Linked DNA regions of Homo sapiens: regions 1 and 3 are each reported to be linked to region 2. Evidence: microRNA targets listed by miRTarBase, many of them from high-throughput screens and not tested one by one. Region 2 holds a microRNA gene; each other region holds the end of a gene's coding sequence.
What was found. The annotated mature microRNA hsa-miR-454-3p reads UAGUGCAAUAUUGCUUAUAGGGU and lies in region 2 at 1,947-1,969, shown strand. An mRNA with a match to its seed (bases 2 to 7 or 8) in the 3' UTR can be bound and repressed. Matches are read on the target gene's strand: a 7mer-m8 pairs with bases 2 to 8, a 7mer-A1 pairs with bases 2 to 7 and ends in A, and an 8mer does both.

Region 1: miRTarBase lists FLNC as a target of hsa-miR-454-3p. The part of its 3' UTR that is shown has no 7-base or 8-base seed match.
Region 3: the mRNA of MBNL3 is a reported target of hsa-miR-454-3p. The part of its 3' UTR that is shown has no 7-base or 8-base seed match.

Annotation. Positions count from the first base shown.
Region 1 is chr7:128,858,087-128,861,438 of GRCh38, forward strand. It overlaps FLNC (filamin C), which reads left to right. Exons shown (of 48, transcript NM_001458.5): 47 at 1-131; 48 at 250-1,186. The coding sequence ends at 437. The region is part of intron 1 of FLNC-AS1 (FLNC antisense RNA 1); the gene reads right to left. Among named protein-coding and RNA genes, the nearest start is that of FLNC-AS1, 2.9 kb to the right of the region's middle. RefSeq lists an enhancer at 107-607.
Region 2 is chr17:59,136,756-59,139,755 of GRCh38, reverse strand. It overlaps MIR454 (microRNA 454), which reads left to right and starts at 1,884; the gene lies at 1,884-1,998. The region is part of intron 1 of SKA2 (spindle and kinetochore associated complex subunit 2); the gene reads left to right.
Region 3 is chrX:132,376,676-132,380,027 of GRCh38, forward strand. MBNL3 (muscleblind like splicing regulator 3) reads right to left here. Exons shown (of 9, transcript NM_001386889.1): 9 at 1-3,002. The coding sequence ends at 2,991. The region is part of intron 2 of RAP2C-AS1 (RAP2C antisense RNA 1); the gene reads left to right. Among named protein-coding and RNA genes, the nearest start is that of MBNL3, 110 kb to the right of the region's middle.

The DNA of each region.
Region 1 (3,352 bases), not on the chromosome of region 2:
CCGGGGCTCCAGCTACAGCTCCATCCCCAAGTTCTCCTCAGATGCCAGCAAGGTGGTGACTCGGGGCCCTGGGCTGTCCCAGGCCTTCGTGGGCCAGAAGAACTCCTTCACCGTGGACTGCAGCAAAGCAGGCAGGTGGCGGGGGGAGGGCGTCTCCCGGGGTGTGAGCAAGAAGCCGTCAGGGAGCAGGGTGTGGGTCACAGTAGGGGACTCCCTGGTGTGAGCCTGTCCCTCTGCCTCCCTCTCCAGGCACCAACATGATGATGGTGGGCGTGCACGGCCCCAAGACCCCCTGTGAGGAGGTGTACGTGAAGCACATGGGGAACCGGGTGTACAATGTCACCTACACTGTCAAGGAGAAAGGGGACTACATCCTCATTGTCAAGTGGGGTGACGAAAGTGTCCCTGGAAGCCCCTTCAAAGTCAAGGTCCCTTGAATCCCAAAAGTGCCTCCCCAGCCTCAGCCCCCACCTCCAGCCACACACACATTACACACACACACACACACACACAAATGTGCCACACCCAGACACGCACAGAATCAGACACTACAAACACCTGCCTTGGGGGTGAAGTGAAGGCCCAGCCTCCCCACCCCACCGCGCCCCAGGGGTTGGAGGACCTTGTCTGTGTCAGGACAGTGTCCCTCCCTGGGAATGTGACATGAGGGCCGACTGGGGCCAGGCTCAGGGGCAGAGGCTGGGACACAAGGGGCTGGCGAGGGCTGCGAGGCCAGGGAAGCCCTGAGTTTCTGGCGGGGCTGAGCAGTGGGGGAGCATTGTGTTGTGGGTGTCTGTGTGTGAGGTCACCCTCAAACTGCACCGCCGGCCAGATACCCTCCTGACCCCGAGGACTTGGTCTGGTCTCTCTGGTGGCTACAACCCCAGAGTTTTAAGGACTTGGAAAGGAAAGCACAATCAGAGAAGAAAACAGCCCCCGAACCAGCAGGAGTGGCCTGGCACATGGACCGGCCTGAGCGATGTGCACTCCACCCAAGCCAGGCTCCCAGGGGGCCTGATTTCTCTCTCACTGTCTCTTTTTTTAAAATGGTTGCACGGCTCTGCCCCATGGGGGGCCTTTTTTACACACTGCGAGGCCCAGCTTTCTAGGGGACTTTTGCACATGTCATGCAGCTCAGCTGGGAGCTGCTTAGGTGGAAAACTCCAAATAAAGTGCGGCTGTCGCAGAGGGTTGGCTGTTCCTTGGGGGTGTGCTCTGTGTGGCTGGCTGCCCTCTGGCCTGCCACACGAAAAACCGGGCCCTGGGGAGGCAGAGGCGGCCTGGCTGTTCCCTGGAAGATTGACCCAGTCGAGGGAAAGGTCCTGGGGCAGAAGTGAGGTCTGGGATGTTGGCAGAGTGCTTGAAAGAACCGGGGGTGGGGGCTCGGGGATGTGGGAAGGGGTCCCAGCGGGAGGGTTCGTGGACAGTACAGGGTGTGGATACTGTGTTCTACAGTACTGTCCCAGGACCCCTGGGAGGCCAGTTTCAGTTCAGCTTGACCTCAAGGATGTTTTTCAAATTAAGACTTTAAAACAGTGAGCACTGACTCAAACAGGAATATTCCTCAACCAGCAGGCAGGCAGAACCACCTGCAGACTCAGCACCTTCCCCCTAGTCAGTTCCTGAATCAACTTGGCCTGTTTCATGCCCCTTTCCAGCACTAAGCTTGCACAGGGCCTCCCTCCTGAACTCCTGCAACAGCCCTGCCCTGGCCAGCTCCCTCCAACCTCCCCTCCATGCTGCAGCTTGGCGGGGGGGTCACTTTAAAGATAGTATATGCCCCTCTCTGGTTTAGGGCCATCTGTGACTCCCTCCTGCTCCAGAGTAAAGTCTCCTCTTCCTGACAAGGTCTCCAGGGCCACCCAGGTTCAGACAGCAGCCTCCCCAGCCATATGAGTTGGGCAGCAGGCCCACTCTCCATTGTGCCCTCCACCTCCAACCCCCCTTCATTACCTCTGGGCACCCATGCTGTAATTTGGGCCCTTGCCCGGAAACACCTTTGCCTCCCCACCCTCTTCATCTTCCTGGCCAACAGGAAGTTTTCCTGGACCCCTCCCTACCCCTCCTGGATCAGTGCCCCCAGCTCCCAAACTGCCCTGGGACACATCTCTAGTTGCAGTTACGACCCTGAGCTGTGGCCATGTATCCACGGCTCCCCACCAGATGGAGCTCCCTGGCCCTGGGTGTGAATGAGTGAGTGAATGGGTATGAATGAATAAATGAGCAGCTGAGTAGCTGCAGCAGGGAAAAGAAGTCTTTCATTCAACTGATCCCACAATCTAGACCCACCTGGGCATTTCAGCACATGGTGGTGGGCTTGGCAGAAAAACCCACGAGTCCCCAACTCCTAATCCCTGACCTCCCCACCTCTCTCACCAGGCTCTGTGCTTCCTCCCTCTTCCCTCACACCCTCCCACACACCCATCCTCACTCTCTGCCCCCCTCACCCTCACCCTCACCCCTAGATGTGCTAATTTCCCCCTCAGCTTCGGCTGCCTCCACCTGTGTGTGGCTGATAAGCTCACAGACCTCCAGCCTGCCTGCTTCCAGCCAGCCACAGTGTGGCCCTGGGTGCTGAGCCTTACAGGCCCTTCCTCATTAATCCTCATAACAGCCCTATGAGGTGGGGCTACTACCATCTGAAGAAACCAAGGCCCTGGGAATTTCAGTGATGAGTCTGAAACCGTACCTTTAAGTAGTGGGGCACAGATTGAAACCCAGGTGTGCCCGAATCCCAAGCTTATCACACATACAATCGCTAGACCAGACCACGGGCACGTCTCAAGCACTCCAAACTCACAAACCCCATGCCAGACACCGGGAGTGCTGATTTGTTAAAAGGGAGGAGGAAAGAGTGGCTCCTTCCCCTTCAGCCTGCTCATCTTACAGAGGTCACTTTCTTGGCAATGTTACTCCCATCCATGTGCTGCACAGGCCAGAAACCTGGAAATCACCCAGGTCTCTCTCTCTACCTCACTCCCCAAACACATCCACTCTGAAACCAGTTTTGTCCTAAATATCTAAATATCTCTCGGCTCTACCTACTTCTCTGCGTTTCCCATTATCACCACCTGAGTCCTGGCCACCATTATCTCTCACAGTGGCCTCCCAATTTGGTTTCTCCTCCCTCAGTTTCGCCTCTGCACACAGCACAGTCAACAGTGAGTGACAGCTCTAAAACGTAAGTTTGGCGATAGCACTCTCTTACTTGAAATCCCTCAGCAGCTTCAGGATAACTGTCCTCAGGATAACTTCCAGATCTTTTTTTTTTTTTTTTTTTTTTTTTAGACAGAGTCTCACTCTGTCACCTAGGCTGGAGTGCAGTGGCGCCATCTCAGCTCACTGCAACCTC
Region 2 (3,000 bases):
ATACAGTAGATGGTAAACCAAAGCCATGAACAAAGTAAAAGGAGAGTAGATAAAGGTGTTTCTAAATGTACATTGAAGAGAAGAAAATGTACAAAAAGTAGATTCTGGCCGGGTGCAGTGGCTGACACCTGTAATCCTAGCACTTTGGGAGGCCAAGGCGGGCAGATTACGTGAGCTCAGGATTTCGAGACTAGCCTGGGCAACATAGTGAGCACTCATCTCAAAAACAAAAAAAATTTAAAAATAAAAATAAAAGTAGGTTTTTTGATTATAGCCAAACTAGTTCCATTAAGATACTTAATTCTCCCTTAAAATGTTTCTATGGAAAATGCATTTCTTTTTTTTTTTTTTTTTTTTTTGAGACGGAGTCTTGCTCTGTTGCCCAGGCTGGAGTGCAGTGGCGCCATCTCGGCTCTCTGCAACCTCTGCCTCCCAGGTTTATGCCATTCTCCTGCTCCAGCCTCCCGAGTATCTGGAACTATAGGCATCCACCACCATGCCCAGCTAATTTTTTGAATTTTTAGTAGAGACGGGGTTTCACCGTGTTAGCCAGGATGGTCTCAATCTCCTGACCTCGTGCTCCGCCCGCCTCAGCCTCCCAAAGTGCTGGGATTACAGGCGTGAGCCACTGCGCCCAGCCGGAAAATGCATTTCTAAGCCTGTTTAGTAAGTCCAGAACACACCTGTCTACCAACTCTTCTCTATGCCTAGCCCACCATAGGTGAGACTGAAATACTTTTTTTCACTTTATGTAATTTAATGCTGTTGAGATAAGGTCTCTCATAAGAGGATGTGTTTAGAGCTTTAAGGGCACTGGTCCTTTGTAGGAGAGCATACGGTGGCAATGAGAATCTAGGGGTTGTTTGTAAAAAGCAAGTGTTTTAAAACTGAGGACCACACAGTATATTGTGACAACCGCAATATATTCTTTTCTCCTTGCTGCCTAATAGTTGAGTAGTATGGAATACCTTGTGCCACTTACTTAAAGCCTTAAACTGGTCATATTGAAAACTAGACTAGAACAGGCTGGGCGCGGTGGCTCATGCCTGTAATCCCAGCACTTCAGGAGGCCGAGGCGGGCAGATCACTTGAGCTCGGGAGGTCAAGACTAGTCTGGGCAAAATGGTGAAACCCCATCTCTACCAAAAATACAAAAAATTTACTAGGCGTTGTGGCGTGTGCCTGTAGTCCCAGCTAGTCGGGAGGCTGAGGCATGAGAATTGCTTGAGCCTGGAGGCAGAGGTTGCAGTGAGCTGAGATTGCGCCACTGCCCTCCAGCCTAGGCAACAGAGTGAGACGCTGTCTCAAAAAATAACAAACAAACAAAACAACTGGTTGAGCATCCCTAATCCAAAATTCCAAAATCTGAAATGCTCCAAAATCCAAAATTCATTGGACCATTTCAGATTTTGAATTTTCAGATTAGGGATGCTCAACCAGTAATTATTATGCAAATATTCCAAAATAGGAGGAAAAAATCAGAAATCTAACTGGCAGAATGTAACCTGGTTTCCCTTGGGGTGCTTTCATGATGATTTCCATAGACTTTTTTCACCTAATTTTGTATTTTATATACCACTTTTCAGATCAGTATAAAACTTTTCCCCTTTATTTTTATTACTGATTTTAGAGAAAACTGGTTTCTGAAATACGAATATCTTGGGCTTTACAAAAATCACTAGTTTTATTTTAAATATTCCATTGCCCCTAAAAAGTTAAACAATAACCTCACTGATTTCCAAGGCTTCCAGGAGGCTGATTTGTAACTGAAAGGGCTGTGAATGATGTTTATCAGAATCAAATTTGCGCGATTTATCAGACACTAATGAGTTTTAGATTATCATAATTGCTTAGTGAATTTCTGCCATCTAACTAAAAAAAATTCTGTTTATCACCAGATCCTAGAACCCTATCAATATTGTCTCTGCTGTGTAAATAGTTCTGAGTAGTGCAATATTGCTTATAGGGTTTTGGTGTTTGGAAAGAACAATGGGCAGGCTGCAGAAAGTATGTAGCAGAAACAAGCAAAAGTCATCTTTAGGAAGAAAACAAGGAACTAGATTTCACTATAAACATTAAAATCTGAGGCTTAAATGTAAATTTTTAATTTATTAGAAGAAGGTAACTTTTCTTTTTGACAAATGGGTTTATTTGTAGTATAAAGAAATAATGGAATTTTAGTATTGAAAAGGATCTTAGATTCCAACTCATTTGATAGGAGAGACCCAAAGAAATGAGGGACTTAACCTAGGGACACATAGCTGGTTAGTGATACTAGGACTAGAATTTCTACCATGTATCCGAATTCTTTTATTTTTCTGTACCATACTACCATGTTGTGTTCAGAGGGAATTTTTAGTTGACTAGCTTTGTAACTTTAGTGATATTAATTTAAAACATAAAAAAACTTTAATTTTAGGTGAAGAATGTACATTTTTGGATGGGTGTGGTGGCTGACACCTGTAGTTCCAGCACTTTGAGAGGCTAAGGCGGGAAGATTGTTTGAGCTCAGGAGTTCAAGTCCAGCCTGGGTAACATAGCGAGACCTTGTCTCTACAAAAAAATACAAAAATTAGCTGGGTTTGGTAGTGCACGTCTGTAGTCCCAGCTACTCAGGAGGCTTAGGCAGGAGAATCAAATCTCTTGAGTCCAGGAGGTTGAGGCTGCAGTGAGCTGTGATTTGTGCCACTGCACTCGCCTGGGCAACAAAGCAAGACCCTGTCTCAAAAAGAAAAAAAAGAATTTACATTTTTTCCACATGTGTGACTCTTAATGGCTTAAATATCATCTATAACTTTGTCTAACTACATAAGAAAACAGTAATGGAAATAGAACTAGAGGCAAGTTACTTTGCTATTTTCTCATTTATAAAATGAAGGGTTCAGAGCAGACATTTAAGATGATTTTTCGGCTGGGCGTGGTAGCTCACACCTGTAATCCCAGCATTTTTGGAGGCCGAGGAGGGCGGATCACAAGGTCAGGAGATCAAGACGAGCCTGG
Region 3 (3,352 bases), not on the chromosome of region 2:
TTTTGTGACTTGTCTTTTTAAATGGAAATTTATAGTCTAATGACTTATCTTTCTTCTTTTCTCTTTTCTTGAATAAAGATAATTTGAATAAGTCATTGCACATCTAGTTTAAAGAGTGCTATCTTAAAATTGTATTTTTTTCTGAAAACTCTATTGAATTTGATCAAAACTTTAGGGCTTTGAGCTTTCTTTCTTTAAGTTCATTTAGAAAACAACTTTTAAAATGCCAACAATGTAGAAAATTGTGGCACCAAAAATACAGTGGCCCTAAATACCCCTCACGGAACCTTTTACTTTAAGGTAAGTCATTGTTAATGTCTTCCAGTGCTTAACGCAACATGAAAACAGCTGTACTGTAGGTCTATTATCTATGGTTTATGTATATCTTTGCCCAAAGTTGAAAAAGTTAAGTGAGACAGTTCACTGCATGCAGATGTCAAACTACACAAAAGTTCATTTTGCACAAAAAAGTTCTTGTCTCCTTTAAGGAATATATCCAGACTAGCTCAGGTGCATCCCTCCTGGATTCATGTAATCAGATCTGCCCTTCTGGAGAGGCACTGGCACGGATCATACAAAACTCAGTTCCATACATGATGAATTTCAAAAAGGCATACACTACTTTCTTCTATAGCAATGTTAAGATTTCAGAAATAGAAATTAACTGGTTCAAAGAGTCCATAGGTAAAGGTCAGGACAACTCTTGATCTCTAATTCCACGCAACATTGTCAACAGCTGACAATGACTCAATACAAGCAAGGCTGTTTAGAAAGCACTGTTGATCAGGATTTGGATGGATAATTAAGATCAACAGAGTATCAATTCCCAGAAAGCTAATTTTGCTCTCTTATATTCTGAGCCAAATGGGTCTGCTTTGGAAGAGAGCATCAAATGTTCTGAAGCAAAAACAATGTGAAAAGGAGGAACAATGGGAAGCAGGAGATATTTCTGGGTCCCACAATGGCTAAGGTAGCCTTGGGCAAGTCATATGCCCCTGGATTCAGTTCCATCAACTATAAAAAGGATTTTGCTAATTCCATTGTTCTGTGATTCAAACACTTCTAGCCAGCTTAAGGTATCCTCAATCAGATTTGCTTTTTACTTGTCATTTTCATGAAGGAGAAAAACCATTATATATATATATATATATGTATATGATGGTTTTATACTTTCTGGTGGAAGAGCGCCTATTTACTAGAAAATATTAAATCTATTACTTGATGTAAAATGTCATGTGTTTCCACCACTGTATAATAACATTAATAAATGAGTAGAGTGGATGAGATATGTCACACACCACAGGAATTATTTGGTTGTAAAATTCTTTCATAAATATTAGTAATGTGAACTCAGCTGAGCTCTGTGGAGTATAGCCACTCTGTCTCATTCAAAGGGTGATAAAACCCTTTCTATTGTCATTTTCAAACATATATAAAGGCAAACGAATCCAAACAAGCATAAAAGAGGCTTGGTTATGATGTGAGAGGGTCTGATGTTAAAGTTTGGGCAGGGGGACACTTGCCATATATCACAGGTGCTTTCTCCTTCACTGAACTGTTTAACAAAACGAAACTCAGTTGAACCGAAGCTAAAGACAACTACAACCATCTTTCCCAGTTCTTTTGAATAAATCAAGGAATAATTGTAAGTGCTTCCCTGTTCCCTGTCCTAGCCATTTCTCCAAGCCTGTACTCAGGCTCCCTCTGTGATCAACAGAGAAGACTGTCCATTTGGGGAGGGAAGTCCTCATTTGCAACCAATTCTCTTTCACCCTGACTGACTTTTGCTAGATTGCATCTTACTTGTTATTCAAAGAGTAGTCTAAAGAGCATGAGCCATTTGCATTTGGAAAATGGCATTTGTGTAAAAGGTGACATTGCCATGGTTTTACACACTTTCCTCCAGTACGTAAAAACTATCTCCATGCCCCCATCTCTCCGTTTGATTTATAACTTGTAATTAGCATATTTTTAAGCTCCCAAGTACCAGTTTCTCAGCTGAAGATGACAAATGGCTCAGTTTTAGACACTCAATTTAGGAGATGGGATTCTCAAGCCACACACACAAAAAATCTAATGAGCACTTTACATAATTTTTAGTATAAATGCTGAGAAATTCATTTAAAGGTAAAGTCTTATTTGCCAAGCTATTTAAGAAGAGTGAATTAGGGGTTAATGTTTTATGAAGTTCTCTGCTTTGTGCAGGTAATTATTTCTCTCTTTAAAAAATCTAGTAATTTGATTGTATTATGCAACATCAGATCTGCAGGTACAAATTATACACATGCATGTTAATGAGCAGGTTTTGTGCACATTCAAAAGTGAGGCGTTTTAAATGTCAGTCCCAAGAAACCTACAGAAATATTCTAAAGAAAGAGAGCATATTTGCATGAACCTGTCATGTTCTTAAGCACATATACTTCTGTTCCCCACTAATAACACTTTAGTTGAAATCAAACACCACACATATACAGCAAAACACTACAGTATGTAAAAACCTAACACAGCACAACACAATACAACACAAGAAATGGTACTGAATATATTTGTTACATCCTGAATCAACCCAATAGACTATCTTGTAAACAAAATAGTAAGGTAACACTTCAAAAACAGATGAACAATTTATCCACCAAGAATGTATATAGTAAGCCAAAAGCTCACTGTGGAAATACACTTAGCATGGTTATTAGAAAATCACAAAGAGTAATGTAACAAGTTACCAAATTTTATGGTCATGTTCTGCTTGATAATTCAAATAGGATGGATGGTAGTTACTAGTTTTCTATTTGTGTTGTTTTAACATCTCCATTGATTTTTAATGCTTTATTTTTTATTTGAATTTGCTGGCTGGCAGGTTTGCTTTGCTTAATACATTGACTGCAACACGCTTATTGTTGTGTTGGTAGAATAAGACATACGAGAATATATATAGAAAGGCCATATGGAGGTTTCCATGGAAAGATTCTGATACTCCATAACTCTGCTGTTCAGAATTTCAGCTGAAATGGAAAAAAAAAGAAAGAAAGAAAGAGTGAGAAATATTGAAAGGTTATTGAAGGAAGAGTCAGGAGAGTGTGGTGGGTCTTGTTCCAGTTCTGTCTGTTAACAGTGCCAAAATATCCCCAATCTGAATTTCAGATTGAAATGGGGCTTTTGAGAATGATCATGAAAGAACCATATATCTATGATAGTCTATGATACCCTTTGAGTGCTAATGTGGAGAACTGTCCTAACAGAGATGCAATCCAATGTTTAAGGCATTATCTATCTACTTTTTGTTGAACATACACCCATGTGTCCACCTTTCAACAGGCATGTACTGAGAAAACATGTTTGATACCGAACATTT